7 linked regions of the Homo sapiens genome follow. The protein of the gene in region 1 purifies or fractionates together with the protein of each later gene. This does not show direct contact. Each region holds a gene or a part of one and is shown in the gene's direction. Other genes may lie near its edges. The genes, in order: SRFBP1, PPP3CB, ZCRB1, FARS2, SCAF1, ZC3H4 and RSRC2.

What was found.
Region 2: the proteins of SRFBP1 (region 1) and PPP3CB purify together in Homo sapiens (co-immunoprecipitation; one large-scale study listed by IntAct). This does not show direct contact.
Region 3: the proteins of SRFBP1 (region 1) and ZCRB1 purify together in Homo sapiens (co-immunoprecipitation; one large-scale study listed by IntAct). This does not show direct contact.
Region 4: the proteins of SRFBP1 (region 1) and FARS2 purify together in Homo sapiens (co-immunoprecipitation; one large-scale study listed by IntAct). This does not show direct contact.
Region 5: the proteins of SRFBP1 (region 1) and SCAF1 purify together in Homo sapiens (co-immunoprecipitation; one large-scale study listed by IntAct). This does not show direct contact.
Region 6: the proteins of SRFBP1 (region 1) and ZC3H4 purify together in Homo sapiens (co-immunoprecipitation; one large-scale study listed by IntAct). This does not show direct contact.
Region 7: the proteins of SRFBP1 (region 1) and RSRC2 purify together in Homo sapiens (co-immunoprecipitation; one large-scale study listed by IntAct). This does not show direct contact.

Annotation. Positions count from the first base shown.
Region 1 is NC_000005.10:121,971,975-121,976,600, forward strand, and holds part of SRFBP1 (serum response factor-binding protein 1), read left to right. Parts: intron 1-2,221; coding exon 2,222-2,310; intron 2,311-3,340; coding exon 3,341-3,413; intron 3,414-4,626. UniProt on the Homo sapiens protein: May be involved in regulating transcriptional activation of cardiac genes during the aging process. May play a role in biosynthesis and/or processing of SLC2A4 in adipose cells.
Region 2 is NC_000010.11:73,485,451-73,490,076, reverse strand, and holds part of PPP3CB (serine/threonine-protein phosphatase 2B catalytic subunit beta isoform), read left to right. Parts: intron 1-4,626. UniProt on the Homo sapiens protein: Calcium-dependent, calmodulin-stimulated protein phosphatase which plays an essential role in the transduction of intracellular Ca(2+)-mediated signals.
Region 3 is NC_000012.12:42,313,082-42,316,461, reverse strand, and holds part of ZCRB1 (zinc finger CCHC-type and RNA-binding motif-containing protein 1), read left to right. Parts: intron 1-2,475; coding exon 2,476-2,588; intron 2,589-2,696; coding exon 2,697-2,772; intron 2,773-3,263; coding exon 3,264-3,380.
Region 4 is NC_000006.12:5,544,099-5,548,724, forward strand, and holds part of FARS2 (phenylalanine--tRNA ligase, mitochondrial), read left to right. Parts: intron 1-1,081; coding exon 1,082-1,242; intron 1,243-4,626. UniProt on the Homo sapiens protein: Is responsible for the charging of tRNA(Phe) with phenylalanine in mitochondrial translation.
Region 5 is NC_000019.10:49,655,000-49,659,592, forward strand, and holds the end of SCAF1 (splicing factor, arginine/serine-rich 19), read left to right. Parts: intron 1-2,761; coding exon 2,762-2,890; intron 2,891-3,208; coding exon 3,209-3,400; 3' UTR 3,401-3,643; downstream 3,644-4,593. Other genes in the region: IRF3 (interferon regulatory factor 3), read right to left, coding at 4,590-4,593.
Region 6 is NC_000019.10:47,089,259-47,093,884, reverse strand, and holds part of ZC3H4 (zinc finger CCCH domain-containing protein 4), read left to right. Parts: intron 1-3,695; coding exon 3,696-3,918; intron 3,919-4,626. UniProt on the Homo sapiens protein: RNA-binding protein that suppresses transcription of long non-coding RNAs (lncRNAs). LncRNAs are defined as transcripts more than 200 nucleotides that are not translated into protein.
Region 7 is NC_000012.12:122,512,891-122,517,516, reverse strand, and holds part of RSRC2 (arginine/serine-rich coiled-coil protein 2), read left to right. Parts: intron 1-86; coding exon 87-290; intron 291-2,289; coding exon 2,290-2,412; intron 2,413-2,788; coding exon of another isoform or gene 2,789-2,801; exon of another isoform or gene 2,802-2,805; intron 2,806-3,642; exon of another isoform or gene 3,643-3,750; intron 3,751-4,626.

The DNA of each region.
Region 1 (4,626 bases):
TGAGTTTGGACGTCTCTTTCTAAAAGCTTAGTTCTCCACACAACTGAAGAGGGAGTGGTCCTAGTGAACCATGTAATGAGGATGTTTATTTAGTCTCTAATGAAAATGACTCAATCATGTTTAAAAATCAGTGGGAAACAAATGCATTAAAAGGAAGAGAATGACAATGCTATGGTAAAGGGATAATCCATAGTAGAGGTTCTAGGAAGGCAGAAGAGAATGGGCTCTAAAAGACAGTTAAAAGATAAACTCAGATATGTGTAGTGGTATTTCTTATATTGTAACTTTATTCGTAAAGGAAGATGGGTCATGGAAGTACATTTGCATTCATGGTAGTAGAAAAATGATGGTTCCCAACTGATAATTATTTTCTCCACACGATTGAAAGAGAGAAAGGAGGACGGAGACTAGAGGATTTAGGAGAGTAGGCAAAAGCTTAAAACAGGCATTGTAGAGTGAACTGAACAGAAAAATACAGGATGGCTAGGAAGAATGGGGGTCCACTTGAGGTTAATTATGATGAATTTATAGTAGACAGAATGTTACAAGTATTTGCTGTTGGCATATGACAATGAAGAACTCAGAGTGTTTTTTTCATTCAGGACTACGGTTTCCTCACCAGAGGGGCAGGAGTTTAAGAAATTGGCAGATGTTATCATGTATCTAAACTGCATAAAAAGAGGAACATTAAGTGTAGGAGTCAGTGGATTGGTGGTCCTAATGAAGTCAAAGATGGTTGTGGTGGGTGGAGTTGAACAAGCAAGCTGATAGAGGTTGTGATCACAGTGTGGAATATTTGAATTAATGGTTTTAGAAATTGAATATTATGAGTGATGACAAGGTTGACAGTGTGGCCATGGAAGTGGATGGCTGAGATAGAATAGATTAGGTCTTTAGAAAATAAGTAAAGAAGTGAAGATATAATTATCAGATGGGCTATTCAAGTGGACATGCAAGTTACACAGAATGATGGCAGAACTTAGGGTGTAAAGAAATTGTAAGTTGGTTGCTAATATCTTCAGTGAATAAGGGAGTGAATGACATGAAGGGTAAGAGAAGATATTAATTAAATGGAAGAGCCTTAAAGAAACAGGATGATGTTGATAATGTTATTTTGGCAAGAAGAATTTGAGGAATTTTTTGTGCCAGGCACTCTTGCAGGGCAAAGAAAACACTATATAAATATTACAAGACTCCTGTTTTCTAGGAGCTTGCTGTCTATAGAAAAAGACAGCCACATGAGCCATTAGTAACAGTGCAGTGAGGTAGATGCTTTAATGACAGAATCTGTATAGTGGGGACCCCAGGGATGGAGTGGTTATCCTTAACTGAAGAAGTCATTGAAGGTATCACTGGAATGACTATATCTGAACCTGAATTTTATATAGTTCCTAAAGTGAAGAAGGGGAAGAAGGACATTCCAGGAGTAATTTTTAAGATGTATGCCTCGTAACTGATAGATGAAATATAAACTCCGTAATTACATGCCATTGCACTGAAAGCTGTTATAATGTGTATTTTTTTTATAACTATAATTTCCATTTTTTGGCCTATAGCTCTGCTTTTTGTTCTTAGAGTTAAACATTGTTCTCCAGTAGGGTGATTTAAATTATGTATTTGTATGTGTGTGCATGTGTGTGTGGGGGGGGGGCATGTATGTTTACATGCACATATGCTTGCACACAATGCCCTTGTGTTTGTGGATCTTCTTTTAAAATTATACTTGAAATAATTTGTTACTAAAAATAATGAAAGATTTGTTTTATAAATATGTAAAATAAATTGCTAATTAAAAGCTAATTTGCTAATTAAAATAGTCATTCAACAAATTAAATTCCTACCATTATGAGTGAGGCTTTGTTTTAACGGTGGGAATACAAAGATGAATATGACAGGCTGTGATTTCAGGGAACTCACTGTTTATTATATTCCAAGCCCAGCAAGATATAAGTGTAACATTAAAATACTTATCTCGGGTAATACTGTGACTTTTTAAAAAATTATAACTTGTTTTTCTTAAGCTCTCAGACACATTTTTAGACTGTTGATTTATTCCTTCACTATTTATGGAAGAGGTTTGATTTCATCAAGCTACGAATATAGTTAGACAATAAAAGTAGTTAAAGTGGTAGACTAAGTCTCAAATATTAAGACTCAAAATAAAGTGTGTTTGTTCCTGAAGTAAGTGCCTTTCTTCTAATTATTGCTTTATTCTTCAAAGGTTGTGAAGATGAGAAAAGAAGTGAAGAGAATTCGAGTTTTAGTTATCCGAAAACTTGTCAGGAGTGTTGGCCGACTGAAGTCAAAAAAGTTAGTCATTTAAAGTAATGATCTTGTGACTAATAAAATGTCAAAAGTTGTTTTTATTTGATACTTTAAAATGTTTAGGGTGGGATATAGAGAAGTAATTAAATGTCTTATACACCATTTTTGTTTTGTATGCGGAGATGATGTGAGTGAGATAGAATGTGCTGTGTCAGCATGCCCTTCTATGGTTTGGACCATCATTGCTCAAGATACAGGATGAATTTTTTTGCTGCTTTTGCAAAACTCTCTTTTGGTCTTTTTAGAATGAAATTCCCTTGGGCTTGTGTGTTTTGTGTTATCAGAAGTTATTTTAAGATACTGATACAGCTTAACAAATCTAGTAATACCTTAAGAATCAGTTTTGAAGATTTTATATCACATTTTTTCTTGAATTGCTAAGTAATTTGAAATCTTCAGTACCTTATGAAAGTGTTTATTAGAACATTGTGTTCCATGTAATTTTTTGGAAAAATACAATATTTTGTATTTTCAGTATCACTAGTGTTAGTGAAAAAGTATTTTATTTATAGTTCTTTTTATGATGTAAGCATGAATACTTAGTCTTCAAGTATGTTTTGTTCCTGATTAATTTCCTATTCTTTCATAAATATGTCAGAATATAGCCCTTCTTTATTTTTTCCTTAAATGCCAGAGAGCAAATTTTCATTTGATAAAATTATAGTCAAACTCTAATTGTAAATTATGACATTTATATTACATTAAATACAATGTACGATTGATTGATTTAAAAAAGTGTTATTAAGGAACTAGAGAAGGCAAACTATCAAAAGTAATAGTCATTAATACAATGGCAAGACAGTACTTATTTTTGCCATTTTCCAACATATGGGTTTGGTTAGTAAATTGAGGTGTGTTTTGGGAGTGGGGGAAATGGACAGTGTAGGATAGTGGCGTGTTTGTTATTTAGAGATTTATTACGCTTTTCTAAAAAGAAATGAAGTGATTATCCATTACACTATAAGTCTAAAATTAATGCTTTGCCTGGCTACATATCGTAATGTATTTTTTGCAGGGGTACTGAAGATGCACTGTTAAAAAACCAAAGACGGGCGCAAAGATTGCTTGAAGAAATCCATGCCATGAAGGTAAGGACTTGTGTGGGTGTGTATGTGTGTATGTTTCTGAGTATCCTGTTATCCTGCATTTTGTTTGTGTGTGGTATTGCTTATTTGAATATTCCCGAGAGTTGCGTAAGACATCTTGTATCAGTCTGTTTGGTGAAGAATGTAGCACATTTAGAAAATTGTAACATTTAAGCTTGCATTTTTCTGTTTTTGACTGAATTTGTTAAAGTGCTAGGCTAATTTGAGTCAAAATTGTGCCAAACTAAATTCATCTATGTTTAATAATGCCTCCTGCCTCAGGTTTTTATTTTTACTGTAACTTTAGCACGAAGTCAGTTCAAGAATTAAAGTCTTCATGCTATTTGGGAATGTGGATGGTGATATTGGTGGCTGACATCATGCTTTCCTTGTTGCCAGCTCAATAAATTTTTATGTATTGGTATCGGCATTTTATTCAGTTCTGTAGTAACTTCAAATAAAATTAGTGTTAGACCAATGTGATCCCATATTTTTGTTTTTTTTTTCAGTCAGACTCTTCACTAGCATAATTTTTAGGTCTTCTTGCTGCTCTTACTTTGAGGAAACTTTCATTTACCAAATGACATGACATTAAATGTCTGGGAGACTGTTTTACTGTAGAACTTAAAAACAACATTTGGTCCCAGCAATTTTCTTAATTGCAGGGTCATTTTGCATGCATGTTTGCCTATTATATTTTGGTATAACTTTCAAGTTTTGAATTAAGTAAAAGAGAAATAAAACTCTCTAACTATTTTAATTGAGTTAAGTTATCAAAGATTCTCAGCCTTTCTTCCTTTTAAACGGATAGTAAAGTGTTTAATAGGACAAAGTTATCCCAGTTAATCTGAATAAAAACATCTAGGAAACGACTCTTTGATATGAAGTATATTTGTTTCTTGTGTTCTTCCTTCCCTCTGCTGCACACTATTATAAAATTCATGGAATCCATCTGATATAACTTTTATTTCTCAAGGTTATAATTCCCTTTTTATTCAGTCCTTCAGGAAAAAAAAGTCTTCTGTATTTGACTGTCAGTGATCATTTGTGTCTCTGTGGTTTGCAGATTATTTAGTTTTTTCATATACCTTTTTAAAATGATATTCCTATGAGAAATAAAATCTTTAGAGATTTTGTCTTGAGAATAGCAATAAAATAGGAAGTTACAATTTATCTCTTTCACTTTCTCTTAACCAAGGTTCTTACTAAATTACAT
Region 2 (4,626 bases), on another chromosome or scaffold:
AGGATATTAAGTAAGATAGATTCTCTTGTAGTGCCGGCATTCTAGTGGGGGAGACACTATTATAAATAAATAATGTAATGAATTTGGTACAAAGCGCTACTGGAGCTGTAAAGAAGGGATTGGCTATCTTACTTTGAGGGAAAGCGTCACTGAGAGGATAATGTTTCGAGGTAGTCCTTGAAGGATGAGTAGAATTTCACCAGAAAGTGGGGCTAGAGTAGGTGTAACAGAAGCAGAAAGGCATGGAGTTTGAAAAAAGCATGAAATGTATGGCAAAAGTATGTGAAGTGCTTGGCAAGGAGTGACAGGAATGAAGTTAGAAAAGATCTTTTGTATTACAAGTTGAGGAGCTAAAACTTAAGCTGTTAAGCAGTATAGCAGTATATAGTACCTGGATGATTAAAAGCACAAGCTCTGGAGTCAGACTGCCTGGGTTTGAATCCTAGCTCTACTACTTAATAACCTTCTTGCCATGGACAAGATACTTAACATCTCCAAGCCTTAATTTTCTTATCTGTAAAGTAGAGCTAATAAAATCTTATTATAGGGTTTTTGGAGAATTAATAGAGACCGTGCATATAAAGTAGGTACCACAGTTCCTGGCCTGGCACATGGTAAGTACTCAACCAATGGTAACCATCACCATTATTATTATTATTATTATTATTGAAGGTTTTAAAGTAGAATAGTGACCCAGTATCTTGTTTTTTGATGGCTAATTCTGGCCATATTGTGTGCAACAAATTATTGGAGGGCAAGAAGCTTAAAGCAGGTTGTCTAATTAGAAGATTAATGGAGTAGTCCAAGTGAGGGATGACCAAGGCATGAAAAACTAGATACGACACAAATTCCTACTAATATTAGAAGGTAAGTATATTGGATGAGTGATTGAGTATGGAAGTGAAATAGGTGAGCAACAGTTTTTTAGGAAACAATAATCAGAATAATTTTGCTTTAGGGCTAGATTAAATTGGGCAATTGTAGTTAGATGCAAAGATTGGAATGATATGTAAAAGACTGAGAATGGTTAAATTGAGAAGAACCTTGAAAATAAGATCCAAAGTTTTCTTTTTCTTTATTCTTTAGTCATTAAGAAACTACCCCAAGTTTTTGAGTAGGTTAATTTACTACTTTGTTCAGTCAAAGAGGAAGAAGAGATTTTTCTAGTAAATGATAAGAACTTGAACTAGTATTGCAACAGTGGAGATTTAAGAAAATTGAATTTGAAGAATCAATAGGACTTAGAGTTCAGAAAGAGAACAATGACATTAAGTGTGAGTGATAGAGAATGGTGATACCTTAACAGGTGTAAGCCAGGAAGGGGAGCCAATTTTGAGGGAAAGGTATATTTAAAAACCACCACAAATTAAAAGAGACCCAATGGATACCTTGAAATTTTGAAGACAATGCTGTTGGATTTATTGAATCTTTCCTTAAAGCATGTGGCCAATCCATACTTCTACTCCTGGCAAGCAAATGGTTATATCATTCTTCATGATGAGGCTTTTTTTTTTTTTTTTTTTTAACCCTCAAGACAGGATCTTGCTCTGTCACCCAGGCTGTAGTGCAGCGCCATGATCATAGCTCACTGCAGGTTCAAACTTCTGGGCTCAAGCGATCCCCCAACTCAGCCTCCCAAGTAGCTGGGACTACAGGCACACACCACCATGCCTGGCTAATTTTGTTTATTTTTTATGGAGACAGAGGTCTCACTATGTTGCCCAGATTGGTCTCAAATTCCTGGGCTCCAGTGACTGTCCTGCCTTGGCCTCCCAAAGTGCTGCAGTTACAGGTGTGAGCCACCACGCCCAGCCATGATCAGCCTTTTGATGTCTCCTTTTGTCAAAAGAAAATTGTCCTTGTGTTGGTATAAAGACATATGCTACAGGAGCAGCATTCTGAAGACTTCAATTTCAACTATGGCTCTACTTCTTACTAGTGAAACCCCTGGAGAAGCAACTTAATGTCTCTGAACCTGTTATCTATCATTTGTGAAATGGGAGATAAAACTTGCCTGACCCTAACCCCAGCACTTTGGGAGGTGGAGGCGGGCGGATCACTTGAGGTCATATGTTCGAGACCAGCCTGGCCAACATGGTGAAACCCCGTCTCTATTAAAAATATACTAATTAGCCGGGTGTGATGGTGGGCGCCTGTAATCCCAGCTACTCGAGAGGCTGAGGTAGGGAGAATCGCTTGAACCTGGGAGGCAGGGGTTGCCATGAGCTGAGATCTCACCATTGCACTCCAACTGGGGCAACAGAGCGAGACTCTGTGGAAAAAAAAAAAACAAAAACTTGCCTGACCAAACTCAAAGGATGTCCCTGGGAATCATGTAGGATTATGTATGTGAAAGTACTTGGTCAACTATGAATAAAACACTATAAATATATTGTCATTGCTACATAAATTAGTGTCGTTAAACAAGTATTTTGGAAACTATAATCATTAATTCTGTAAACATTTCTTAATACCTATGTTTTTCCTGTTTGTTTTTTTTTTTTTTTTTTTTGGTTTTGGTTTTTTTTTGAGATGGAGTCTCACTCTGTTGCCCTGGCTGGAGTACAGTGGCATGATCTCGGCTCACTGCAACCTCTGCCTCCCAGGTTCAAGCAACTCTCCTGCCTCAGCCTCCCAAGTAGCTGGGATTATAGGCATCTGCCACCACGCCCCGCTAATTTTTGTATTTTTAGTAGAGACGGGATTTCGCCATGTTGGCCAGGCTGTTCTCAAACTCCTGACCTCAAGCGATATACCCACCTTGACCTCCCAAAGTACTGGGATTACAGGCATGAGCCACTGCACCTGGCCAGTTCTTAAGTTTTAGATAGGTTTTGATAATGGTGGAACTTAGAATGGATAAGACTTGTGGGCCAGAAACTTGAGCCTATGATGACTAGTTTTCTTTTGAGAGAAAGTCTCACTCTCGCCCAGGCGGGAGTACAGTGGCCCAATCCCGGCTTACTACAACCTCTGCTTCCAAGGTTCAAGCAATTCTCGTGCCTCAGCCTCCCCAGTAGTTAGGATTATAGGAGCCCGACACCATGCCCAGCTAATTTTTGTATTTTTAGTACAGATGGGTTTCACCATGTTGGCCAGGCTGGTCTGAAACTCCTGACCTCAGGTAATCCACCCGCCTTGGCCTCCCAAAATGCTAGGATTACAGATTTAAGCCACGGCACCCAGCCTATGATTAGTTTAATAGATAGCAGGGACAAGGGTAAACTAGCCAGAAGGCATGAATCTCAAAGGAGGAGGCATTTTTTTTCCCTTAGTGGAGAGATGATGTTGGAAGTGCTAATGCGGAGCTAAGAGAATGCTGAAGCCTCCACTGAGATTAGTGGAATGCGGAAAAATGAGCACCATCCACTTTGAAAAAAGAATTTGATAAGTGTTGTCCTTCAGGAGACCCAAGATGTAATTAAACTAGAGAGATGAAGACAGTATTCTGTGTAGAGCTAAAGAAGAGAGAGGCCAAGCGCGGTGGCTCACGCCTGTAATCCCAGCACTTTGGGAGGCTGAGGTGGGTGGATCACCTGAGGTCAGGAGTTCAAGACCAGCCTGACCAACATGGAGAAACCCAGTCTCTACTAAAAATACAAAATTAGCCAGGCGTGGTGGTGCATGCCTGTAATCCCAGCTACTTGGGAGGCTGAGGCAGGAGAATCACTTGAACCTGGGAGGCAGACGTTGCGGTGAGCTGAGATTGCACCATCGCACGCCAGCCTGGGCAACAAGAGCAAAACTCCGTCTCAGAAGAAAAAAAAAAAAAAAAAAAAAACCAGTCTGGCCAACATAGTGAAACCCCATCTCTACTAAAACTACAAAAAATTGGCTGGGCGTGGTGGCTCACGCCTGTAATCCCAGCACTTTGGAAGGCCGAGGCAGGCGGATCACGAGGTTAAGGGTTCGAGTCCAGCCTGGCCAACATGGTGAAACCCCGTCTCTACTAAAAATACAAAGATTAGCCGGGCATGGTGGTGCACGCCTGTAATCCCAGCTGCTCAGGAGGCTGAGGCAGGAGAATCGCTTGAACCTGGGAGGCAGAGGTTGCAGTGAGCTCATGTTGCGCCACTGCATTCTAGCCTGGGCAACAGAGCAAGACTGCATCTGAAAAAAAAAAATACACACACACACACACACACACACACACACACACACACACACAATTAGCCAGGTGTGGTGGTGTGTGCCTGTAGTCTCAGCTACTTGGGAGGCTGAGGCAGGAGAATTGCTTGAACCTGGGAGGTGGGGGTTTCAGTGAGCTGAGATCCTGCCACTGCATTCCAGCCCCGGCGACGATGCGAGACTCTGCCAAGAAAACAACAAAAAAAGAGATTGTGTGTAGGGTTTGTGGGATAGATTAAAACAAAATCTTATAATAGGAATTCTGAAGGCCTCAATGAAAAGGATGGAGGGAGAACAGCAAGAAGGAAATTGTATGAGGGAAAGAAATACAGAGAAAAATTTAGAAGTATAGATGTAGAGACTGTATTTTGGATAGTTGCCAAGGATGGCAATGATGGGAAGCATGATGAGATTAACTGACCTTAGGCATCTGAATGATACTTTGGAGTCAAGTTATTCACTTGGCACAGACTGTACCCCCGTTGAAGTCAGAGGCCT
Region 3 (3,380 bases), on another chromosome or scaffold:
ATTTTAGTCTGGTTCTCACAGGTGTAAGTTTGTAAAATGACCATAAAAATACTTAAGAAACAGGCCGGGCACAGTGGCTCACGCCTGTAATCCTAGCATTTTGGGATGCTGAGGTGGACGGATCACTTGAGGTCTGGAGTTCAAAAGCAGACTGACCAACATAGTGAAACTGAGTTTCTACTAAAAATACAAAAAAAAAATTAGCCAGGCATGGTGGCAGGTGCCTGTAATCCCAGCTACTTGGAAGGCTGAGGCAGGAGACTCGCTTGAACCCAGGAGGTGGAGGTTGCAGTGAGCCGAGATTACTCCACTGCACTCCAGCCTGGGCAACAGAGGGAGACTCTGTCTCAAAAATAAAAATAAACATAAAATAAAATACTTAAAAAACAGAGTCCAGAGGTAGTAATGGGGAACTGGGGAGAGAATCACTGAAAGATACCGTCCTGGCTACAAAATCACATGGAAGATGCAAGGAAATGGCTTGAGGTCCTCTACCCCACTGTCACTCCCCATACCCCCGACAAAAAAGATAACTAAATAAACAGACTGATGGATGGATGAATAGAAAGAGTGAGCAAGCAGTTGCTTGGATACATACTGATTCTGTCAATTCCTATGATTCTAAAACCTCTTAAGTAAACACTTTAGAAACTTTTCCAAAGTTTTGAGTTTTGTAAAAGAAAGAAAGGGAGGGAGGGAAGGTAGTTATATTCAGATTAGTATATATCTTCATATTCACAGTAAATATTAAATTATCTGAGAAATCCTAGATGAATCTGTTAATCGGTTCCTTTTGGTTTATGGATCCATAGAGTTGTTATATTTTTTACATTTTTATATTTAATTTCCCTCCCTCCAAAAAAAACTTTTTTATATTGACCTAGCCTGGTTTTTCTCAAGTTATTTCATTAAATCCTTTTTTAGTATGGGATATGTTAATTTTTTTTTGCTATAATATTATTCCAAAACAGTTTCAGATATGTGTCTCTATTTTCTCAGCAGCTCATTAACAGTAAGTAACCTCTTTAAGTTGGGCTATGTCCTAGGTATACAAAGTGCACAGTCTGTCTGCTCTGTCAAATATACTGGAAAAGCATGATTATTGTTCCCTTCTATTGTTCTAACCTTGGCTCAGTCCCCACACCCTACCCTGACATAACCTCTTAAATGGAATTGTAGTGAGCTGATGTCCAGATTATAGTTGAGCTCTTATGTTTTACAAATCAATGTTCTAGCTAAGTAGGAATAATAGCCTAGTCCAGCATTGTCAAATGAGAATATAATGCAAGCCACGTATGTTACTAAGTCTTCAGAAATCCAATGTGTATTTTACCTTTACAGTACGTATCAATTCAGACAAGTTCTCAGTAGCCACATTGGCTGGCTAGTGACTACTGTAATTGGATAGTGCAAGTGTAGTCAGGATATAAAAGGGAAAAAACGGAAGTAATTCATAGGAAAAGTGAGGAAGAAATTTTCCATTTGTTTTTTGGTTTTTTGTTTGTTTTTTGAGACAGGGTCTTGCTCTGTTGCCTAGGCTGGAGTGCGGTGGCACAATCTCAGCTCACTGCAGTCTCTGCCTCCCGCGTTCGATCAATTCTTGTGCCTCAGTCTCCTGAGTAGCTGGGATTACAGGCATATGCCACCAAGCCCAGCTAATTTTTGTATATTTAGTAGAGACAGGGTTTCCCCATGTTGGCCAGGCGGGTCTTGAACTCACTTCCTAAGGTGACCCACCTGCCTCAGCCTGCCCAGCCCAACAGAGTATTAAGCAACATCTTGGAAATTAACAGGAATAGTTTTATCCTCGTTTTATCAATAACTTAAGATGTTTACATTTAGGGTAAATGATCCATTTAAATTTTGATTTTTTTTTTTTGAGACGGAGTTTTGCTCTTGTCACCCAGGCTGGAGTGCAACGGAATGATCTCAGCTCACTGCAACCTCCACCTCCTGGGTTTAAGCAATTCTCCTACCTCAGCCTCCTGAGTAGCTGGGACTACAGGTGTGTGCCACTTATGCCCAACTAATTTTTTTTTTTTTTTTTTTTTTTTTTTTTTTTTTAGTAGAGACGGGATTTCACCATTTTGGTTAGTCTGGTCTCAAACTCCAGACCTCAGGTGATCCACCCACCTCGGCTTCCCAAAGTGCTAGGATTACAGGCGTGAGCCACCGCGCCCGACCAAACTGTTTTATATCTTGAATTTTGAGATTTAAATGTTTGAAAGAAGACTACTACCACTACTCTTAGTAAAACTACTAAATAGTCCTAAATGTTAAAATAACTGAGAGTTATAATATCACCTTCTAAATATTAAAGTACTGGGTTTTATCATTAATGTCTTCTGTATAGTCCCAGTATGGGAATATTCCTTTTTAAATTTGAAAACTTTTTAGTAATAAGGTACCAGGCAAGTTTTTATAAATAACATCAAATATGGTATTTTTCCTTTCCTTTTTAATGGGAAACAAAAGGAAAGTGGACACTTAAGTTATGCCTGTCCGAAAAATATGCTCGGAGAACGTGAGCCTCCAAAGAAGAAAGAAAAAAAGAAAAAAAAGAAAGCTCCTGAACCAGAAGAAGAAATGTATGTATATTATTCTTACTAAATACATCATCATGTTGCTTTTGTCTTTTGGTTGGTTGCTTTTGATTATTGGTTGGTTACATTCCAATTTGTTTTTCTTTATTTAAGTGAGGAAGTAGAAGAAAGTGAAGATGAAGGGGAGGATCCTGCTCTTGACAGCCTCAGTCAGGCCATAGCATTCCAGGTATTAAATTGTTCTTTTAAAAGGCATCATACAATAGTTGACTTGGTTTATAGTGCTTGCTTACTTCATTGATCACCTCATGGCAACCTCTCTTTTTCCCCCTAACCTCCTAAGCCTTAGGAGACAAGCTGTTTCTCTGAGGTACTTAGCCAGTGTGAATGAAAAGTTCCCATTGGTTCTTCCTAGATTTTAAGGGCCCCACAACACTTACTATCTTAATCTTTTTTCATTAAAGAAATGAGCAGAACTATTTGCTCAAAGTGAATATAGCCCAACAGAAAAGATTTTTTTAAGAAATTGCCTAGGATAATTTTGTGTAAGATTTTGAGATGAGACAGAACTCAGGGGAAGGGAGCAGATCTTATTGTCTGCATGGACTGGGAGGGTGGGAAGTAATGGCATTTGTGGTATGTTTTTGCCATGTTTTGAATTAATGAACCATAAATAATATTAAACAGGTTATTGGTTTTGTTTTGTTTTTTGAATCACAGCAAGCCAAAATTGAAGAAGAACAAAAAAAATGGAAACCCAGTTCAGGAGTCCCCTCAACATCAGATGATTCAAGACGCCCAAGGATAAAGAAAAGCACATATTTCAGTGATGAGGAA
Region 4 (4,626 bases), on another chromosome or scaffold:
GTTCCGTCCCACTGTAGAAGTGAAGTTCCCATTTTCTCCCTGGCTGCTGGTGCCTCTCTGAGCTCCTTTAGGACTTCTCAAGGGCCCGAGCCATGTGGCCTCTTCACAGCCAGGAGGTGGATCTCTCTCCAATCGGCCAAGATGGAGTCCTAGATAAAAAGTAAAGCAGTCACAGGCTTAAATTCCCATTGTGTTCCTAGATCCCACCCATACTCAACGGGAGGAGTTTACACAAGGCATGTGCATGCGGGGTGGGAGTCTCCGAGGCCATCTCAGCCTACCACAGGATCCTACTCATCTGTTAGTGTCCAGTTGGAATTATATCCTTTCATGAGCTCATTTCATAAGCTTTCCTGCAGTGTGAACTGCTCCTTTGCCTGCCTTCATTCTGCAGTTTCTATCTTCCCTTTTACACTGCCTCAGTTTGTGAAGTAAACCCTTCTAATTTATGGCACTGACACAATCTGAGCAGGACACTGTACCTTTGGAGTAGGTGGTGCTAGTTATACCCCTCGTCTGGGCCTGCTTGTGTTCTCTGCAATGCTGAAGTGGCTGTTGGTAAGAATAAGCATTATGGTGTTTAATAAAACTGAGGTTCTTAAAGGCATGACGTATGTACTTTCTTCATGTAAGTTCGTTCTAAACATGTTATGGCCACTATGGCATGTTTTGAATGTATCTCATTATCTACTACACTTAAGGACAGAGACCGTCTTTTCTTTCCACTCTGTAACCTATATTCAGTGGGCTAAATGTTTGAATCAGAGCAAGCAAAGACTACAGAAAAATCATAACTCAGTTCAGGAACCAGTGCTTCAGAAAGCCTAGAATGTAATCAGAAATGAAAGACAGTACTCCAGACAGTATGACTTCAGAATCCGTTCATGAGGGCAGTCCGGAATATGGAGATGAGAAAGCGTGGAAGATTGGGCACCCTCATGGATGTCTTTGTAGCGGCTGCCCAGTGCCTTTGCCCGCTGGTAGGCATCTAATTAGTGTCACTGATAACTGTCAGGGAGTGGTATGAACCTATCCAATCTCGATACTTTTTAAAAACAACTATTTTGTTTCCTAATCACAGCTGGTGCTCAAGACCGAATCGGCTGGGCTTTTGGCCTAGGATTAGAAAGGCTAGCCATGATCCTCTACGACATCCCTGATATCCGTCTCTTCTGGTGTGAGGACGAGCGCTTCCTGAAGCAGTTCTGTGTATCCAACATTAATCAGAAGGTGAAGTTTCAGGTAAGATGACTTGCAAGAACTGAATAGATAATAATAAAAATGGCTGTCAAGGATCGACAGGATCATGTACTTGAAAGCCACTGAATTTTATTTTATTTATTTTATTTTATTTTCATTTTACTTTAAGTTCTGGGATACATGTGCAGAACGTGCAGGTTTGTTGCATAGGTATACGTGTGCCATGGTGGTTTGCTGTGCCTATCAACCCGTCATCTAGGTTTTAAGCCCCACATGCATTAGGTATTTGTCCTAATGCTCTGCCTCCCCTTGCCTGCCACCCCGCAACAGGCCCCGGTGTGTGATGTTCCCCTCCCTGTGTCCATGTGTTCTCATTGTTCAACTCCAACTTATGAGTGAGAACATGTGGTGTCTGGTTTTCTGTTTCTCTGTTAGTTTGCTGAGAATGATGGTTTCCAGCTTCATCCATGTTTCTGCAAAGGACGTGAACTCATTCTTTTTTATGGCTGCATGAATTTTAAATAATGTGAATTTGTAAAGAAGTTCTGGCCAGGCATGGTGGCTCATGCCTTTAATCTCAGCACTTTGGGAGGCCAAGACGGGTGGATCACCTGAGGTCAAGAGTTCGAGACCAGCCTAGTCAACATGGTGAAACCCTGTCTCTACTAAAAATACAAAAATTAGCTGGGCATGGTGGCACGCACCTGTAGTCCCAGCTACTTGGGAGACTGAGGCAGGAGAATCACTTGAACCCAGGAGGCAGAGGTTGCAGTCAGCTGAGATCGTGCCATTGCACTCCAGCCTGGGCAAAAATAGCGAAACTCTGTCTCAAAAAAAAAGAAGTTCCTAAATAGAGGTCCATAAACACACAAGGGGTTCATAAACCTTCAGAAATTTTATGCAAGAGAAAAGATATTTGTCAATATTATTAGTCTAAGCAGAGAACCAATTTTGTACTTTTTTTTTTTTTTTTTTTTAGACAGAATCTCACTCTGTCGCCTGGGCTGGAGTGCGCGATCTTGGCTCACTGCAACCTGCGCCTCCTGGGTTCAAGCAATTCTCCTGCCTCAGCCTCCTGAGCAGCTGGGATTACAGGCGCCCACCACTACGCCCAGCTAATTTTGTGTATTTTTAGTAGAGACGGGGTTTCACCATGTTGGCCAGGCTGGTCTCAAACTCCTGACCTTGTGATTCGCCCGCCTTGGCCTCCCGAAGTGCTGGGATTACAGGAGTGAGCCACTGCGCCCAGCCCTCATCTAGTATCTTTTCCAACAATTCTACTCCATTCATTTTTCAGAATGAAGCTGCATATATGTTAGACCATTTGATCCTATGCCATAGAACTCTGATGAAAGGTTTTTTTAATTAACGATTTTCTTTTCCTGTGTGCTTTATTTTTGATAATTTTTATTGTCTTCTCTTTGGGTTGCTCATCTTTTTTTTTTTCCTGTTTTGTCCAAGTAACCATTAAGCCCATCCAGTGAATTAATCATTCCCCAGATAACTGTATTTATCAATTCTAGAATTTGCATTTGCTTCCTTTTTAGAGTTTTCATTTATCTACTGAAATGCTTGATTTTTTCATCCATTTCATCCATTCTTCCTTAAATTCTTTCACATATTCATAATGGTTATTTTATTTTATTTTATTTTATTTTATTTATTTATTTTGAGACGGAGACTTGCTCTGTTCCCCAGGCTGGAGTGCAATGGCATGATCTCAGCTCACTGCAACCTCTGCCTCCTGGATTCAAGCAATTCTCCCACCTCAGCCTCCCGAGTAGCTGGGATTACAGGCATACACTGCCATGCCTGGCTAACTTTTGTATTTTTAGTAGATACAGGGTTTCACCATGTTGGCCAGGCTGGTCTCAAACTCCTGACCTCAGGTGATCTGCCCATCTTGGCCTCCCGAAGTGCTGGGATTACAGGTATGAACCACTGCGCCCGGCCTCATAATGGTTATTTTAAAGTACTTGTCTGTTAATTCCAACCATTTGATTATCTAGTGTTCTTTTGTTGTGGTTGTTTTCCCTTCCTAATCATGGCTTACATATTTCCTGCTGCTTCACTTGTCTTTTTGTTTTTTTTTTAATTGTGTTTGAATGGACAAAGACTGAGGTAGATAAAATTTATCCCCAGAAAGTCTTATGCTTTCTACCTTCTGGCTGCTAAGGTGACTAGGCCAGATCTTTTTGTTCTAATCAGGAGTTGAGTTGAATTTCACATCTGCTTTCCTCTTGATGGTGAGATCTAGCCCTGCAGCAGAGTTTGGGATCTAACCATGTGAGATCACAGGATCTCTTTCTGCTTTCCATCCACTTACCAGCTTCTTCCACCACCAGCGTTTGTAAGCAGAAATATTATGAAGGAGAATTGGCTGGCAGTGAGGGTTAGCTCTGTTTCTCCATTTTCCAATCTGCCATGCCAGCCCATGCTTGGCTGACGCAAGTGTGGCTCATTCTTCTTATTCCAACAAAATGTCTTTGCCAGTAGCAGGCTAGCTCTTCTGCCTACTCACGCCCCAGTGGCGACAGCAGCCATCAGTGTCTGTCTACCCTAGAAGGGCTCATCTCTCTCTGGAGTTATACTTATTTATATTTGTGTACAGACCTTTTCAACTGTATTAGTCCATTTTCATGCTGCTGATAAAGATATACCCCAGACTGGGAAGAAAAAGAGGTTTAATTGGACGTACAGTTCCACATGGCTGGGGAGGCCTCAGAATCATGGCGGTGGGCGAAAGGCACTTCTTACATGGCAGCAGCAAGAGAAAATGATGAAGAAGCAAAATCAGAAACCCCTGATAAACCCATCAGATCTTGTGAGACTTAATCACTATCACGAGAATAGCACAGGAAAGACCGGCCCCTGTGATTCCATTACCTCCACCTGAGTTGCTCCCACAACATGTGGGAATTCTGGGAGATACAATTGAAGTTGAGATTTGGGCGGGGACACAGCCAAACCATATCATCAACTTTAAGGACAGGTATGATTTTTATGAGTGTATTTTGTTATTGTTATAGTGAAGCACACTGATTTTGTGTGTGTGCCCATCTGCATCTTGAACCTTTCTATGTATATATGCATATATTTTTGGTTTTACCTTATGAGGACTTTTAAAAACTTCTACTTGAATAATTATCTGTTTTATTTTAGCATCAATTTCCTTGTAGACTAATTTGAAATAAAGCTGTATCTAATTTACAATAAAACCTGGCTAGGGCTGTAACTTTTTCTCATTCTCTTTTTAATATATTGTCAGTTATTTAATCAGCAAACATTTAAAGAACACCAACATCGTGTAGAATGGTGTGCTCAACACCATGGTGTGACAAATAAAGATGAAAAACACAGTTGCCACCAGAATTAAGTGGCTTAAATTCAATTTTAAGTGTACTTACAACAATCTTTTTTTATGAG
Region 5 (4,593 bases), on another chromosome or scaffold:
CATGGAACCATAAGGAACTCCACTTTGCTGGAATGGGTGAGCAGGAAATGCGTTAGGCGTGTCCAAAGGAAAATCGCGTCTGTGCGTGTGTGGGGCTGTGTGCGTACACACCACATATACACACCCTGGAAGAGATGCCCCGCGCTGCAGCCCACCCCTTGATTATCTGTTGCTCGCGCTGTCTCCGTCTCTGTGAGTGGGGGAGGGTGGTTTCCGAATGAAAACTCAAGAACCTGTTTGTAGATGAAGCAGGGGAGAATGGGTGCCAGGCAGACAGTAATGTAGGTTCTTACTCAGCTGCTCTGGCCGGCTCCTACTCCTGGGCTCTGGAGCTGTTTCTCTCTTGGTCAGGTCTAGATGTGGGTTTTTGTTTTTGTTTTTCTTTGAGATGGAGTCTTGCTCTGTCACCTGGTCTGGAGTGCAATGGTGCCATCTCGGCTCACTGCAGCCTCCGCCTCCAGGGTTCAAGTGATTCTCCTACCTCAGCCTCCCGAGTAGCTGGGATGACAGGCACCCGCCACCACACCCAGCTAATTTTTGTATTTTTAGTAGAGACGGCATTTCACCACGTTGGCCAGGCTGGTCTTGACTCCTGACCTCAGGTGATCTGCCAGCCTCGGCCTCCCAAAGTGCAGGGATTACAGGTGTGAGCCACCGTGCCCGGCCTTGGTTGGTTGGTTTTTGAGACAGGGTCTCGCTTTGTCACCCAAGCTGGCATGCAGTGGCACAGTCACAGCTCACTGTAGCCTCAGCCTTGATCTCTCGGGCTCAAGGGATCCTCCTACGTCAGCATCCTGTGTAGCTAGGACTACAGGCACGCGCCACCATGCCCAGCTCATTTCTTAATTTTTTGTAGAGTTGGGGTCTCACTATGTTGCCCAGGCTGGTCTCAAATTCCTGAGCTCAAGTGATTCTCCCACCTCAGCCTCCCAAAGTGCTGGGATTATAGGCATGAGCCACTGCACCCAGCCTAGATGTGTTTTCTTACAGTCTAGTAGCCCATAGCCAGACGGTGACGTTGGCCACCCTTACACAGCTGTGTACCGTGCCAGATAAAGCTGTATAAACCCCATTAAACATCCTGTGTGAGCCGCAGAGGCGGGGCTGCAGTTTAGTCGGTCACTTGTCCGTAGCTTGTGCCTTGCGCTGCAGGACTCGGACGGTGAGGACCCCCTGGTCTACAGTGGCCCTTGCTCTGCCCTGGTCTGTGCTCTGCCCTTTGCCCCGCTTTGCCCATCCGAGATGGGTGTTGGGGAGCAGCGTCTCTCTAGAGACCCACATCCTGTGGGGCCAGGCAAGCCTGAGAAGTCCCTCCAGGGCAGCCTGTGTCTCTTCTGGCCACAGAGTTCCCTAACAGCTCAGTAGCTCGTCAGACAGTGTCACTGATGTTGCTCCTGGAGTCGGCTAGCCATTGTGCCCTGCCCTTCCCAGGACTCAGTTTACCTGCCCCTACTTTGATAGTCACCTGGCTTGGGAGGGCAGCTTCTCCAAGGGTGGTGCCAAGGGACTGTCCCTTGTGCCTGCAGAAGGCCTGTTCTTCTCTGGTCCCACGTGGCTCTCTGGCTAGAGGTTTCCTGTCTGCTTTTGCAAGGATTCTGCCTGAGGCCAGGGCTGCAGCTGCTGCCCCGAGCCTGCGGCTGCGGGATCTCCTAGCTTGCTGGCCACAGGCGGGAAGAGCCTTGCCTCGGAGGCTCTCTGCCCTGTCCCTGTTGCGTCCTCCCCTTTTCATCCCATGGCCATCCCCCTTGGAACAGGCACAGCTCCCCTGGATTGAGTCTTTGCTCTGTACCCAGCCTGTGCCATGTCCTCCATGTGTGTCGCTGTAGTACTGCCCATAGGTGCTGTCCCCGTTTTACAAATGAGCCACAAAGGTGGCCAGGCACGGTGGCTCATGCCTGTAATTCCAACACTTCGCAAGGCCGAGGCGGGTGAATCGCTTGAGCCCAGGAGTTCAAGATCAGCTTGGGCAACATAGTGAGACCTAGTCGCCACAAAAAGTACAAGAATTAGCCAGGCGTGGGGGTGGCACATCTAGTCCCAGCTATTCAGGAGGCTGAGGTGGGAAGATCGCTTTAGCCCAGGAGACCAGGGGTACAGTGAGCAGTGATTGTGCCACTGCACTCCAGCCTGCATGACAATGAGAGACCCTGTCTCAAAAACAAAGAAACAAAAAAGGAGCCACAAAAAGGTTTGGCTGAGCATCCCAGGGGTCAGAGACAGGGAGTGGCAGACCAGGCTTCTGATACAAATGGGCTCAAGGTCAGTCCCCACCCCCACTCCCCAGTGCCCCTCACCCCTAGCCACCCCCTCCATCCCCTGGGTGACCAGAGCAGTACTGTAAAAACCTAAACTGAGTCCTCCCCGCTCCCGCGGTGAAAAGCCCTGTGCAGTTTTCTACAGCCCCGCCTCTAGAGTCTGATTCAAAACCAGCTGCAATTTCTTGGCCAATGCCTGTCTTCTCATCAGACTGAACTTTGTGAGGGCAGGCGACACACATGTCCTGGTCCCGGCCAGGCCTGGAGCAGCCCAGGGTTCGGCCTGGAGGAGATGTTCAGTGACATGCAGAGGCCCAGGCCTGGCCTTTGGTCCCGGGCACCTGCAGCAGAGGGCGCATGGGACAGACCCTCAGCAGGACTTCCAGCCTGAGAGCAGCTGGACGGCCAGAGAGGTTAGGCTGGCAGCAGAGGCGAGTGGAGGTGGAGGTTCCGCAGGTACTCACTGGCCCTTGCTGTGTCTTCCCCCGCTGTCGCCACCCCACCAGTATCTGAAGAAGCTGCACACGCAGGAGCGGGCGGTGGAGGAGGTGAAGCTGGCCATCAAGCCATACTATCAGAAGAAGGACATCACCAAGGAGGAGTACAAGGACATCCTGAGGAAGGCCGTCCACAAGGTGGGCACCCGGAGAGAGGGGCAGACACAGGCCGGGGAGAGAACGAGCTGGAGGGACAGATGTGTGCAGACAGATGGACGCGGATGGGAGACGGGGAGGAGGTCAGTCTGGGAGGTGAGGAGGGTGACAGGATTTTCTCAAGGCCACCTGGGCCTGTTCCGCTGGCCCTGGGGCACCCATCGTCTAGGGGGACAGAGGGACTTTGGCCTGGTTATTGGGGAAGCTCCTCCTACCGCAGTTCCAAGCTGCGCCCAACAGTCCTGGGTGGATGGGGCCCCGGGAGCCTGGTGGTGACTCCAACTGTCCCCGGCCCCCCAGATCTGCCACAGCAAAAGTGGGGAAATCAACCCAGTGAAGGTGAGCAACCTGGTGCGGGCCTACGTCCAGCGCTACCGCTACTTCCGCAAGCACGGTCGCAAGCCAGGGGACCCCCCAGGGCCCCCACGGCCGCCCAAGGAGCCAGGGCCCCCAGACAAGGGTGGCCCGGGCCTGCCCCTGCCCCCTCTCTGAGAGCCCTGGCCAGCTCTTCGCCCCTCACCTCTTTGAAACTCTGGACGTATTTATGGCTCCACCTCCCCACCTCCCTCCCCCGTCAGTGGGATGACTGGGGGAGGGTTGCTGCAGGGAAGAGGAGAGCCCCCTGCCCTGCCCTGCCCCGTGTCCACCTCCCTTGCCCCCAAGCCTGTCCCCAGTGCCCCTCCCTTCTGTTTGTGCCCCTCTCCCCAATTTCATTAAAGATTTCATGAAACATTACCCCTGAGCCCCATGGTTCTAACCCTTTGTTTTCGGAGACAAATTTGCCAGAGGGTTGGGGAGGGACCCCCAGGAGGCTGAGGATGGGAGACAGAGACCAGACTGTGACTTGGGGCAGCTGCCTCCCCTGGGCCTCAGTTTTCTTATCTGTGTAGTGGGTGTTGTGATGATTGAACAAGACACAGGTGGAGCACTTAGCACAGTCTCTGGCTGGGAGCGAGCTGCTCACAGGGAGGCAGGGGCCGGACCCCACCTGATCAGCATCTTCCCAGCTCGGCTCCTGGGTGCCATGTGCCTGCCTTGGAATTGCTCCCAGAGCAGGATCTGTGTTCCCCATTGAGTTGGCTTCTCTTTTCAGCAGCCCCGTGAAGCTGGGGTGATCTCATCAACTGTCCTGAGAGGGAAACTGAGGCACAGAGCAGCAAGGGCCGAAGGGTGAGTCAGGGCTGCGCTGGCTTCTGCCAGTTTCATCACCCAGAACTGCGGCCCAACCAGGAGAGGTGACAGTGCCCAGGGTCACCAGGCAGGCAGGCTTTGCAGGCTCCAGGGTGGCCGCAGAGCCCCTTTACCAAGACCCCTCCAGCCCCACGTGGAGGGGAGCCTGAGGCCTGGAAGGAGAAGGACCACTTGCCCAAACTGTTCATAGGCAAGGCAGGGGGCCTGGGTTCTGGCTAGTCTTTGTGTTTCCTACTCTGTGACCTTTGCGCCTCTCCCAGCCTGTGTCTTGGTCTACAACACGGGGACAGCCATCACCCACCAGGTCCCTGGGCAGAAGTGAGGAGGTGTCAGCTGCCCCCTGCAGTGCTTGGTCTTCATGCATTGAGCACCTGAGTTGTATATAGCTGCACAGATGGGTAAACTGAGACCCTGAGCGGGAATAACAACCATATTGGGTCAGAGGGCACCCAACACCAGACACGCACAAGTGATCATAGCAGGAACCAGTTTAT
Region 6 (4,626 bases), on another chromosome or scaffold:
CATTTTTTGTGAGTTTCAGTCCTGGGCCATCAGGTATTAATTTAATCCCCATTTTATGAGTGAGGAAACTGAAACTTAGACAATTTCAACAAGGCAGCCCAGACAACCAAGTGAGACCCCACAAAAAATAAAAAAATTAACCAGGCATGCCTGTAGTTCCAGCTACTCAGGAGGCAGAGGTGAGAAGATCCCTTGAGCCCAGAAGTTTAAGGTTGCAGTGAGCTATGATCAGCCACTGTACTCTAGCCTGGGTGACAGACAGAGCAAGATCCTGTCTCAAAAGGAAAAGAAAATTTCAACAGGGTTGCCCAGCTCTCTGAAGTAAAGGAGCTGGGATTTGAACCCAGGCCCTAGCTGACCTCCATGAGGCATGTTCTCGAGCCTCCTCCATGCGGCCTTAGCAAGGCCCTGTATGTCTCAGAGAAAGATGCTGACTGGTCCACGTCACGGCTGACTGGCTTCCACTGTTCACAAATGACCTTTTTGGGAAATTGGCAAGAGAATGAAATGTTCTCAAGTAGCCAGTAGGCAGAGGTTAGATACTCAGCCACTGTCGCTCTCATTTCAAGCAGCAATTTAAATTATTTGTTCAGTTTGTATACCATTTCTTCCCCCAGAAAATCCCATAAGAGAAAAGCAAATCATTTTTTTTTTTTTTTTTTTTTTTTTGAGGCAGAGTCTCACTCTGTCGCCCAGGCTGGAGTACAGTGGTGCAATCTCAGCTCACTGCAAGCTCTGTCTCCTGGGGTCGCACCATTCTTCTGCTTCAGCATCCTGAGTAGCTGGGACTACAGGCACCCGCCACCACTCCCGGCCAAGTTTTTGTGTTTTTAGTAGAGACAGGATTTCACCGTCTTAGCCAGGATGGTCTCCATCTCCTGACCTCGTGATCCGCCTGCCTCGGCCTCTCAAAGTGCTGGGATTACAGGTGTGAGCCACCGCGCCCGGCCGCAAATCATCTTATGATTACTTTACCCAGTATTCGTTGGCACGTGGGTGTCCGGGTTTGGATGAGAAATGTTTTGTCTTGTTTGTTTATTTATTTATTTATTTATTTATTTATTTATTGAGACGGAGTCTTGCTCTGTCGCCTAGGCTGGAGTGCAGTGGGGCAATCTCGGTTCACTGCAACTTCCACCTCTCTGGTTCAAGCGATTCTCCTGTCTCAGCCTCCCGAGTAGCTGGGATTACAGGCATGTGCCACCTTGCCCGGCTGATTTTTGTATTTTTAGTAGAGACAGGGTTTCACGATGTTGGCCAGGCTGGCCTCGAACTCCTGACCTCAGGTGACCCGCCCGCCTTGGCCTCCCACAGTGCTAGGGTTACAGGCGAGAGCCACCGTGCCCGGCTGGTTGAGAAATGTTTTAAAGTTAGTAGGTCTTTAAAGCTGTCCCAGGTATCCCATGACCCAGCATCATCCATCACAACAAATGATTCATTGTCCAATACCATAGTTGAGATTGATCTACTGGTGTAGGTTTGGCCTTCAAACCTGAGGGAGGCAGGAAATGGAGGGAACATTGCGTGCTTTTTATGAACTAGAGCTGGAGGCATTTTAAAGATCTGCTAAAGTACTTGTATGTGTGTCTGTGTGTCTAGCTGTATTTTGCATTGTCCTGTTTTTCTATAATTCGGATTTTTTAAAATTAGTGGGCTTTATTGTTTGTTTGTTTGTTTATTGAGATGGGATCTCACTCTGTTGCCCAGGCTGGAGTGCAGTGGTGTGATCTCACCTCACTGCAGCCTCGAGCTCCCTGGGCTCAGGTGATCTTCCTGCCTCAGCCTCCTAAGTAGCTGGAACCATGGGCCATAACGCCAAGGCTAATTTTTGTACTTTTGGTAGAGATGGGGTTTCAAAATGTTGCCCAGGCTGGTCTCAAATTCCTGGGGTCAAATGATCTGCCCACCTCGGCCTCCCAAAGTGCGGGGATTGCAGACATGAGCCACCATGCGCAGCCGACTTTTTTATGCGTTCATTCATTCATTTATTTAGAGATGGAGTCTCGCTCTGTCGCCCAAGCTGGAGTGCAGTGGCACAATCTCGGCTCACTGCAACCTCCGCCTCCCTGGTTCAAGCGATTCTCCTGCCTCAGCCTCTCAAGTAGCTGGGATTACAGGCGCCCACCACCACACCTGGCAAATTTTTTTTTTTTGTATTTTTAGTAGAGACGGGGTTTCACTATGTTGGCCAGGCTGGTCTCGAACTCCTGACTTTGTGATCTGCCTGCCTTTGCCTCCGAAAGTGCTGGGATTACAGGCGTGAGCTACCACGCTTGGCCCAACTTTTTTTTTTTAATTTTAATTATTTTTTGAGACAGAGTCTCGCTCTGTCGCCCAGGCTGGAGTGCAGTGGCGCAATCTTGCCTCACCGCATCCTCTGCCTCCCGGGTTCAAGTGATTCTCACACCTCAGTCTCCCGAGTAGCTGGGATTAGAGGCGCCCATCACCATGCCCGGCTAATTCATTTTGTATTTTTAGTAGAGACTGGGTTTCACCATGTTGGCCAGGCTGGTCTGGAACTCCTGACCTCAAGAGATCTGCCTGCCTGGGCCTCCCACAGTGCTGGGATTACAGGTGTGAGCTACTGTGCCCGGACTTTATTTTAATTTTTTTGAGTTGTTGTTTCGCTGTGTCACCCTGGTTGGAGTGCAGTGGTGCAGTCTCTGCTCACTACAACCTCTGCCTCGCGGGTTCAAGCAATTCTCCTGCCTCAGCCTCTCAAGTAGCTGGGATTACAGGTGCCTGCCCCACACTCGGCTATTTTGTTGTTGTTGTTGTTGTTGCATTTTTGCATTTTTAGTAGAGATCGCATTTCGCGTCTGCATCTCCTGACCTTGTGATCTGCCCGCCTCGGCCTCCCAAAGTGCTGGGATTACAGGCATGAGCCACCGCGCCCAGCCCCCTGACTTTCTTTTTTAGAGCTGTTTTAAGTTTATTCAAAATTGAGCAGGTAGTAGTAGAGTTCCCTTCTCCCCTCTGCCTGCCCCCTTCCCTGCCTCCAGTTTCCCATTACCAATGTCTTGCATTGTTGTGGTAACTTTGTTAGAATTGATGAGCCGGTATTGATACATTGTTATTACTTAGGGTTGTATAGTTCTCTGGGTTTTGCCCAATACACACTTTATTGTTACATATTCGTCGTTACTCCATTGTCTGGATATACCAGTTTGTTATCCATTTACCTGTTGAAGGATGTCTTGGTTGCTTCCGTTTTTATGAGTATCTTTAACTTCTTCTAGTACCACTTGGCATTACCACACTTTGGAAAGCATCATTTGAGATGGCTGTCCAGCCTGGCTGCCAAGCAGGCCATTTATTGAATTCCAGGGCCCTAGGAAAATTGTGACCAAGCAGCCCCCGCCTGCTTCCCAGGCCCCTCCACGTGCGCTTGCTCTGCATCCTTGGGAAATGCTCCCTTCTTCTCCCCTTTGTTCATCAGGGATCGGGGGTCTGTGGTTCTGTTTTCTTTCTAGTTCTGGCCCTTTATGAAGAACAGAAACACTTGGGCCCGCTGCTACTCCCACTCCCTGGTACGAGAACCAGTCCCCAGAGGGGCTGGAGACCAGCAGTGCAACCCTGGGACAGTAGTGACACCCAGACAGACATGTTCGTTTAGGGAACCCTGGGTATCTTGGTAGTCTGCACCCACGGCTGTGGGATCCGGCTCACCTCTTTTCCCCATCTCTGGGACGCAGTCCCACCAGCAGTACCCCCCATCGCATGCCACGCCCCTGCCCAAGAAGGCATACTCCAAGATGGACAGCAAGAGTTATGGCATGTACGAGGACTACGAGAATGAGCAGTATGGGGAATATGAGGGCGACGAGGAGGAGGACATGGGCAAGGAGGACTATGACGACTTCACCAAAGAGCTGAACCAGTACCGGCGTGCCAAGGAGGGCAGCAGCCGCGGCCGAGGTGAGCCCTGCCCTTACAGTTTCTCCTCTGGGGCATCGGAGCCACCCGGGCCAACCCCGGTGGCCTGGTCTCACAGAACCTCAAGTTTGGTCACTTAGGGTTGGGATAAGTGTACAAAGAAGGGCCAGGCTCTGCATGTGCATGGCACAGGAGACCGGAGAGATCACCCGCTGGGCTGTGGTTGGGGTGGTACCAGGCTGGTGTGAGGCAGGGAGAAGGCCAGCGTGCCCGAAAGGTCACTTCCTGGTCAGCTGTGGGGGGAGAAGGGAACAGCTTCTCTTTCACCTGGGCCATGGTCACTGACAGCTGGCTGCCACACCCCACAGCAGTGCTCCCCCATTCTCCCAGCCCCATCACCTGACAAAGTGTGACTGCAGTCCTTGCCACTGCCACACCTCTGAACCTTGAACCTGTGTCCTTTGGGAGGAAGGTGGAGGAGGCTTGAGCACCAGAGACACGGTAGCCCTGACTGGCCTCTTAGAACACATCTCTGCCGGCGCAGTGGCCCATGCCTGTAATCCCAGCACTTTGGGAGGCCGAGGCTGTCGGATCACCTAAGGTCAGGAGTTCGAGACCAGCCTGACCAACAACAGCAACCAAAAAGAACCATTGAACCATCTCCTGCCAGAAAGACTGCCCAGCCTGAGAATGGCTTCTGGAATCTTCCAGTGCAGGGGTTCTCAGACTTGTGAGCCCTGCCTGAGGCCC
Region 7 (4,626 bases), on another chromosome or scaffold:
GTTACTACAAGTAACTAATTCATGATGTGTATAAATGAAACAACACAACTTTTAAGTAATTACAAATTTGTGCACTTTAATTTCAGACGCCATCGTAGTAGAAGCAGGGAGCGGAAGAAGTCTCGATCCAGGAGTAGGGAGCGGAAGAAATCGAGATCCAGAAGCAGAGAGAGGAAGAAATCGAGATCCAGAAGCAGGGAAAGAAAACGGCGGATCAGGTCTCGTTCCCGCTCAAGATCAAGACACAGGCATAGGACTAGAAGCAGGAGTAGGACAAGGAGTAGGAGTCGGTAGGTGACCATCATCCTGAATAAAATTTAATAGGACCCTCAGAGAGTCTGTTTATCTTCCTCAGTAAGAGAGTATTAAAATTGTGAGTCACAATTCTATTTATAGATTATGGTAAAATTATTTTAGTCATTACCTAACGTATGAAGAACACACCTAACCACTTGAATAGCATTCACAGGTATTCTCGTGATTGATAAATCTCTTGCGAAGTGCAGGTATGAATAGGCCTATTAAAATGCAGTTGTTGGCTAGGTGTCGTGGTTTACACCTGTAATCACAACGAGGCGAGCAGATTTTTTGAGCCCAGGAGTTCAAGACCAGCCTGGGCAATATGGTGAAACCCCATGTCTACAAAAGATATGAAAATTAGCCTGGGGTGATGACCCACACCTATGATCCCAGCTACTTGGGAGGCTGAGGTGGGATAATCACTTGAGCCCAGAAGGCAGAGGTTGCAGTGAGCCAAGATCATGCTGTTGCACTCCAGTCTGGGTGACAGGAGTGAATCCTGTCGTAACAAACAAATTCAGTTGTGTTCAACACTGGATTTGTTGTATTAATTTTATTATCACAAATAACTAAAATCTCCTTTTGCATACTTACCATATGCTGTATGCTAGAACTCCTTGCATGTTATTAGCTCATCTAGTTCTCAGAAGAACCATGTTGAAAGGTAAGTGTGTCGTGCTTAAAGACGTTTAAGAAATTTGCCCCAGAATTCCAAAACAGTATCATTATTAAGTGCTAGAGCCAGGAGCAGGTTTCAGATATATCTAAATGCAAATTCCATGCATGTGCTTAACCCACTGTATTGTACAAACTACCTCAGATTTTGTTTGTAAATGAACACAATTTAGATTTATCTTGATTGGTGGGAGGAGGCTTTGTTGAGATAGGAGGTGTACAATAAAGAGCACAGGAGGAAAACTAATTATAAATATTCTTCAATGAATGCGTTATTCTCTGCTTGTTTACATATGACAGTAGTATACTGACTTTTGTAAATTGATTGCAACTTAGGTCAGTGTATGAAAGATTGAAACATACATTTAAAAAGGGACCTGTACTTAATACAGTAACTTGGTTTTTATGATTTATCACTTGATCTTTAAATCAATATGAATTTTTACTCAGTGGTTCTAGTTTATAGTAGTTTACTACTTTGAACCTTACCAATTAAGAAATTTTTTTTTAAGTGCTTTTTTGGTCACTGACATCTAGTTTTTTTGTTTGTTTTGAGACAGAGTCTCACTCTGTCGCCCAGGCTGGAGTGCGATGGCACAATCTTGGCTCACTGCAACCTCTGCCTCCTGGGTTCAAGCGATTTTCCTGCCTCAGCCTCCCGAGTAGCTGGGATTACAGGCACCCAGCATCACGCACGGCTAAATTTTGTGTTTTTGTAGAGACGGGGTTTCACCATGTTGGCCAGGCAGGTCTCGAACTCCTGACCTCAGGTCATCTGTCCGCCTGAGCTTCCCAAAGTTCTGGGATTACAGGCATGAGCCACAGCACCCAGCCAGACCTAATTTTTAGTGGTTAATAACTTTTTATTTTTGAAAAACATCTACAAATTCACTGTAGATGAAAATATGTAGGAATGATTCCTGTGGTATACATATTGACCTACAAGAGCACAAAATGACTAATGTATAAGGCTAGCTTTTCCAACATTGGATATACTATGCAAAAGATTGGAAACAGCCAGATGCGGTGGGGCATGCTTGTAGACCTGTGTACTCTGGAGGCTAAGGCAGGAGGATCACTGGAGGCCAGCCTGGGCAACATGGTGAGACCCTGTCTCTTAAAAAGGGATGAGGGAGTTGGAAACAAATGTTATTTCCAATGAGTTCAGCTGTAACACTGATGTTTTAAATCTTTTGCATCTCAAACTAAATGTTTTTGTATCGTTGGGATTTTTGTTTGAACTAATTGATTTCTTATTAACAAAATAGTTATGACTTGGCCATAATTTGACATATGAAATACGATTTACTACAGAGATAGAAAGAAGAGAATTGAAAAGCCGAGAAGATTTAGCAGAAGTTTAAGCCGGACTCCAAGTCCACCTCCCTTCAGAGGCAGAAACACAGCAATGGATGCACAGGAAGCTTTAGCTAGAAGGTGTGTATATTTCTTAATTCATTTGTTCCAGTTCGCCTTTAAATAAATGCTCAATTGTGTGGATAAGATGAATTCTTTCAGTAAGAGAATGATTCACATACTTTAGTAATATGGTGGCATATTTGTGATCTAGAACTATGTAAATAGTTTAATTCTCATCCTAAACATTTGCACAACTATAAGATTGAGATGTCTACAATTTCTGTTTTTTCCTTCATGATTTAACTGATTTCATTTTTCTCAAATTTAGACTCCCAAATATTTTCAGTTTGCATTTGAAACTTTTTTTTTTTGAGTCTTAAATCTGGTTCAAGAACTATTATTTTCTCATCTAAGATGACTTTTCCTTTACTTTTTGTTTTTCTCCCTCAAATAGACAAAATACCTGAAACAGTAAGTAAAATTTTGTCAATATTATTATTTTGAAGATGGCAATTAACAGATAATACATTATAAGCTAATTTATTTGATCTTGTAAGTTTTATTCCTGGTAACTATGGGAGAACTTTTTTTTTTTTTTTTTAATTTTCTGCTGTTTCGGCCGGGTGCAATCGGTCACACCTGTAATCCCGGCATTTTGGGAGGCCGAGGCGGGCGGATCACTTGAGGTCAGGAGTTGGGAGACCAGCCTGGCCAACATGGTGAAACCCCATCTCTACTAAAAATACAAAAATTAGCTGGGCGTGGTGGCAGGCGCCTGTAATCCCAGCTACTCTGGAGGCTGAGGCACGAGAATCGCTTGAACCCATGAGGCAGAGGTTGCAGTAAGCCAAGATCGCACCACTGCACTCCAGCCTGGGCGATAGAGCGAGACTCAGTCTCAAAAAAAAAAAACACACACACACACACACACAAAAATAAATTTTCTGCTGTTTCAAAGATGAGTAATGGTGAAACCACACACAGCACGACTATATATTGAAATCTGCAAAACTATTCAAAGAACTGCCTCATAGAGAGGCAAAAAGTAAAATAAAATCCAAGCACTTGTTTGCAGTATTTCCCATATTTTGAAAAATAGACTTTTTAGGTTTTGATTTTTTTTTCTCTCGTTACAAAATTAAGGTGTTTTGTTTTTTGAGACAGGGTCCCACCCAGGCTGGAGTGCAGTGGCACATGATGACGGCTCACTGCATACTTGAATTCCTGGGCCCAAGCAATCCTCCCACCTCAGCCTCTCAAGTAGTTGGGACCACAGGCATGCCTGGCTAATTTTTGTATTTTTTGTAGAGAAGACGGGGTCTCCCTATGTTGCCCAGGCTGGTAACACAGTGTAACCTGATGTGCTTCCCTGGGAACCCAGCCTGACAGAAACTGCAGCTGAACAGCAGCAAAAGTGTGAGCTCACCCCTTCTTTCCATTCACCTTAGTGAATGGTATTAATTCCAAATCTTCAATGGCCATTTTAATGCAACCAGTTGTAGTCACACGTATCTTCTTTCTGAAACTAGTATGGAAATAATTTACTATAAAATTGGATTTAGTATATGCTAGATTGTAATTTCATTAACTCTGACAAATATTTTTTAAGCTCTTATTTACTTGAATGCCATAAGTCTATTCTGTTTGTGTTTTTGGATTTTTTTAAAAGTGAAGCCGTTAATAGCATCCAAAATGTCATTGATATATAGATTACTTGGTGATCTTTCAGATAAAGTTTTAAATGTAGTTCTTTAATTTCAGAATATGAGATTATTTACTACCTTGAAATCTGGAGAATTTTTTTCTTAAGAAACTACCATGTATAGACCTTTTATATTGGTTTCTTTTTTGGCTTAAAGGTCAGGATTTAAAACTGTTTAGGAAATACATTTCAGATCTGTGACCTACTTTTTTTATTTTTTATTTTTATTTTATTTTATTTATTTATTTATTTATTTATTTATTTATTTATTTATTTATTTATTTTTGAGACGGAGTCTTGCTCTGTTGCCCAGGCTGGAGTGCAGGAGCATGATCTTGGCTCACTGCAACCTCTGCCTTCTGGGTTCAGGCAATTCTCGTGCCTCAGCCTCCCAAGAAGCTGGGATTACTGATGCGCATCACCACACCCAGCTAATTTTTGTTTTCTTTTTAATAGAGACGGGTTTTGCCATGTTGGCCAAGCTGGTCTCGAACTGCTGGCCTCAAGCAGTCTTCCCACCTTGGCCTCCCAAAGTGCTAGGATTACAGGCATGAGCCACCTTGCCAAGCCTGCGACCTACATTTTATTGT